2 separate regions of the Homo sapiens genome follow, and region 1 is linked to region 2. A link means that fine-mapping ties the variant in region 2 to the expression of a gene that starts in the linked region. Tissue or cell type: whole blood. Region 2 holds a variant in brackets; the other region holds the start of a gene. All regions are shown on one strand. Distances are between the middles of the regions.

Region 1 (2,689 bases), 79 kb before region 2:
ACAAGAACCAACAGAGAAACACATTTGTCTTTTGTGTAACCAACAGACTTCTAGGAAAGTCTCTTTTTCTTTTGTGGGCATGTATATGGTGGGCTCCAGTGGGCTCTGGTGGGCACTTTCCTTTCCTTTTGTGGACATGTGGACCGTGAGATGAGCCTTTATGAATTATCATTCAGCATCTGACTGCTCCTGGGCCAAGGTCCCAGGCCAAGCTATCACTTCAACTCCTGATTGGTCCCAGACCAAGGTCCCAGGACAAGCTGAGTTACACTTTCTCCAAGACCAGTCAACAAATTCTTTTCTTTCCCAGTCCATCAAAACCCTAGACCTGACCTCATAGTTAACAATCCATCCAGGCCCCCTCTCTACTCGAGAAAATCTTCCTTCTTTCACTTATTAAACTTTCACTCCAACCTTACCCTTTGTGTCCACAGTCCTTAATTTTCTCAGTCATAAGACAAAAAACTTCAGATAATCCCTCAAAATGAAAGACTACTATATTTTTAATACATTGATGAGACTGTAACAGAATCGCAGTGGCTTCTTATATAGCAAAAAGTTTGGATGGTTGAAACTCTCTGGCAAATACTTCCAGCCCCAATAACCTCACAGCAAAGCTGCCACTAAGTATTCATTTTGGCTTTTGATTCCTCCTGGGTCCTTGGCCCTTCACATTTCTAACCAAGAGTAGAGTGGCTCTGACCAGAGCAAAAGATGAGAACAGTCTGAGCTTGCATTTTTAAAACGTAACAAATTTTAATGAGTACTTACCTAGGCCAGTTGTTAAGGAATTAAATAAGATAATGCATGTAAAACACCTAAAATACATGGAAAGCATTTGATATATTAGGTAACATTGATACTTTTAATAGAAATAAAGATAATATACCCACAAAATTATCAATCTCAGAATCCCCACAATCAATAACTTGCCATGCCACTTAAAGCAAAAAAGATCTCTGTGACCTTGAGAGGAGCAAGTTAGAGACAGTTAAATGAAATCCCAGATGAGCCCTTCCAAGCATCCACTGTCTACCCAAGTGCAGGGCTCTTGCCTGATGACTGCCCTGCAAGTACAGCTGACCTAAGAAACTTCAGCCTCCTGGGGTCCACTTACATGATCAGGAGCATAAGTGCCAAATCCCAGCACTGGCATGAAGGGTCCATCATTCAGCCTCACTGAATGGCTTTGCTTCAGATCCGTCATCATCCCCAGCTAACCTGTCTTTCCTCCTTTTCCTCACTGACAGCCCAGTAGGAGACAAGGCTCCTGCGTTCTTTATTTGCACCAAATGCAGGATGGGCGGGATGGAGATGACAGCTGCCAATGATTTCAAAATGAAACTGGAATCAGTCCAGTGCCTTTTCTCTGATTCTTATGTCTCTGTGGGAGTATTTTACAGAAAACTCACTCAGAAATGCTGTGAATGCCAGAGGACTTTGATTTTCTCCTCCGTGTTGTTCACACTTGATTCCTTAGTTGAAAAATGAACCACACCAATTTGTCCTTGATAAGTACACTAGACTTCCTTTACAAGAGGCAAAGTTATTATTAGGGTGGTCATTTCAAAACACTAATTCTACTACAGAACTGAAGTTAACTTTCTCACTTATATTTGATTGTTAATCCCTTTAAAACAGCTTATTAGAATTCCTTGAATAACGCTTGAGGCCTAGTGCCAGCCATGCATGTAATGAAATTTCTTAAGAACACCCACCCCTATTCCCAGTATATTTCCCTCCTGTGTCAAGCCACACTCCATTTTCTCTGACTTGTTTCCTTGAATGTTTTGCAGAAAAAACTTGTCTGAGATCATGGATACATTTCTATGCTCTTGCCTTTGTTCCAGCCATTGTCTCTTTTTAGAACAGCCTGCTTAACTCCCTCCTGGTCTCCAGCGGGTTTCTTATCTTTTACTTATCCTAAAAGCACCTCCTACAGTCTAACATCCTTTATGACTCCTTCTTTTTATTGTTGTTTTTTGTTTGTTTGTTTTGAACAAAGATAGGAGATAGCAAAGCAGCCTGGGTCTTAACAGAACAGCTTGGAATTCCAGGGCCTAAATTGCTTTTGCAAACATAAACACACACACAGCAACCATGAGAAAAATGAAAATTAAAAATGGCTTCCAATTCAGATGCCAAGAGGCTCAGCCTAAATGGCCTTCTGCATAATTCACTTTGGACACTTTCATCCTCTGTAGGTGAGGACAACAGGTCTGGACCAAGGTTAATACCTTAAATGGTTCGAAATAACTGACTTTGGGCAGGGTGCAGTGCCTCATGCCTGTAATCCCAGCACTTTGGGAGGCTGAGGTGGGCGGATCATGAGGTCAGGAGGTCGAGACCATCCTGGCTAACACGGTGAAACCCTGTCTCCACTAAAAATACAAAAAATTAGCCGGGCGTGGTGGTGGGCACCTGTAATCGCAGCTACTCAAGAGGCTGAGGCAGGAGAATGGCATGAACCCGGGAGGCGGAGCTTGCAGTGAGCCAAGATTGCACCACTGCACTCCAGCCTGGGTGACAGAGCAAGACTCCTTCTCAAAAAAATAAAATAAAATAACATAACATAACAGACTTTGAAATAATCAGCAGGGTAACCAGTTATTGCTAAAAACACCTCTTCATCTTTTTTTTTATTTTTTTCAAATTTTAAGTAATAGATTTAATTATCACATTATGAAAT
Region 2 (2,689 bases):
ACCTGTTTTTTCTTTTCTAGGATTCTTAGTCCCTGTACTTGTGCTAACTTCAAGTTCCTTCGGTGGATTTTAGTTCATCTCAGCTGTGCTGAAGGAGAAACAAGGCCACACAGTCTTGTCACCTCTGCTCTGGGTGTGAGGACAGCATGGAGATCATCAGGTCAACGCAAGTAAGATGAGGACTTGGGCCAGGAAGCAGAGAGAATGCTGGGCCGCTGTCCTTTTCTTCATGGGATGGTGTTTAGACAACATTCTCTGGTGACAAGGACTCTCTTCTTGCCCAAACCCTAGTCAGGCTCCTCTGGGCTCCTTTTTCAGTGAGGCCCCATTTTGGGGTGTGTCCCAAGACCCCAGTTTTAGCAAGAATCCTGTTACCTCAATTCAGCCAGAATCCCCCACCCTTGATGTCTATCAATCACCCTCAGCTTCAATATCTGGCCAGGTTCTTTGTCCCTCACCATCCCCAAGGAATTTGTGGCCACCCTGAGCTGCCTTCTACAGGAATCCTGTTAGGTTGGTTGAGTCAGAATGCCCCTTACCCTGGGCACTTTGTCCTAGTGATCCTCCATCTCCTGCCCCCACCCTGCTTCTTGGCTTTCCTTTAGTTGCACACTCCTGTTTTCAACAGTCATGCCCAGAATTTTAGCCAAGAAAAATTAGAATTCGGACCAAACTGTAGAAAATAATAAAAATTTAAAAACATTAAGCAAGACTAGAACCTAACAACAGGTGTACTATAGTTTTTGAAACATAATTTTTTCTCTCTCCAATTTCCCATTTTTACTAAAGACAAATCATGGTAGGACTGATTTGCTTTATTATACTTGGCCTGATTATTTGTATACAGTACAGCAAGAATAATTATTTTTTTACATAGGCTTTTAAATTGGCTTTGATGGAACTTTGTTCCACAGAAGGAATCTCAGATAATATTTTTTTGAAGTGAAACCCAGCCATGGATTTGTACCATCAAACACCTATGCGTGGGTGAATTTCTCTCCTCTTGAGATCCCAAGATAAACTTGGGGCTCCTGGACCTGTCAGAAAGTTACATTTTTTACTTACCACAGATCAGGAACCCTGTACAGGCACTGC[G/A]TAGACAAAGTATGAGGCCAGTTTTCCCAAGGGGCTTTTATTGTCTCCATAAGTCAAGTTTGATTCCTGAAAGAAAGCACAGCGTGCCAGTCAAAGCCTTGGTAAAATAACCAGTTTCTCCAATTGTGTCCTGTTTCAAATAAAAACATATTCTTATTGCACTTATGCAAATAACTGTATTGCCATAAGTTAAGAATACTAATAAATAGTTTCCAAATTCTGGAGAAATCAGGTAGAGAGAAAGAAATAAGCTCCAAATTTTGTTCACGGGAGTATACTAAATTGTTAAAAGCTGCCAATAGCTCAAAAGAAAAGCTTCCTTGACTCTGAAAAATACAGAACAAAGGATCAGCAATGTTTTAAGCAAAAAGTCAAAAAGATTACTTCAGTCTTCTATTAGTTCAGTTCATGCAGCTAATTCCTGCTCTGCTTGATATTCATGAACATTTCAGCTCTCCATGAGTTTTCAAAGTTTTTCCTCTATTCTGATGTCACAGTCTTCAAAGTTATCAGAAACCTGCATTCAAGAGCACCTGTTAGAGTATTATAGTTCTATAAACCACCTTCTAAAGAGGAGCAAAACAAGAAACAATTGTCTGTGGATGACAAAAAGTTTTAGAGCAGCCATAGTCAAAAACACAATTGACAGGGAAATTTGTTACCTCTGTGGCACACCATAATTTAACATGACAATGATTATTACTGATAATGTATACTAAGTTATATCAGAGTTATATGAGTTTCCCATAATTTTGGAACACATGCCAATTACATATTTATACAAATACAGCCCAAAGATAACCAAACACCATTTCATGTTTGACAATACTTCCTGTATAATTTTTACACCAAGTGAGCCAAATTTCATTTTTAGATTTTAGGGAACCTAATATCTTAAAGGATTAATTAGGTCTGAAAAAGAAATAATTTATAATTTGATTTGGAAAGTTTGTCAAATATCAATGGTTTAAAACACTTGATATTACAGGTCATTGTAAAATAAGTCATTCATTTAACCAAAGTGATAACACAAGGATTCCAAAAAAAGGCAAAAACCTTTTTTCTTTGAGAGAGAAGACTTAATTTTCCAAACTATAAGCCCTAATAAAAACAGTGTGATACCAATTAAATCTGTTTTTCAAAATTTTATTAACAATTTATGAACTTTTAATCTTGACAATAGGATATAACTTTCTTAAGCCTTTTATAACCTTTATAACCTTTATTAAGGAGTCAGTTAATGCTTCACTAAAACCTTGTTAATCTGTCACAGGGGGCCATATTCTTGTCTTGCATCAGTGTGCCTTTGACATTAATGATTAATTTACAGAGAAATTGAACTTATTTTGTCTCTCAAAATTGGCCCTTTCAATCTCACACACCCACCTCTTCCACAATAGTCCTGGGGCCTTGAGGAGTTGAATAGCTTTTATTTCTGGCCCTATGTCTCAGGAATGCAATTTATTTTGATTGGCATCTTCTACTGCGCCTGAAGATGAGGCTTTAATTGTTGTCAGTGTTTAAGATGTAGCAGGACTTGGTGTCCTTTATAGATCCAGGAGTCAAAGCCCTGTAACTCAATGTCACAAGGACT

What was found. PIP is the estimated chance that this variant, and not a neighbour inherited with it, causes the effect.
Region 1: it holds the start of AKR1C8, and the variant in region 2 is fine-mapped to the expression of AKR1C8 in whole blood (TOPMed, PIP above 0.99). The same link has a PIP of 0.9 or more in blood mononuclear cells and lung.

Annotation. Positions count from the first base shown.
Region 1 is chr10:5,183,895-5,186,583 of GRCh38, forward strand. AKR1C8 (aldo-keto reductase family 1 member C8) reads right to left here and starts at 1,256. Exons shown (of 9, transcript NM_001395972.1): 1 at 1,118-1,256. The coding sequence starts at 1,210.
Region 2 is chr10:5,262,945-5,265,633 of GRCh38, forward strand. No RefSeq gene overlaps it. Among named protein-coding and RNA genes, the nearest start is that of LINC02561, 6.9 kb to the right of the region's middle. The variant G/A (reference allele first, on the strand shown) is at 1,096.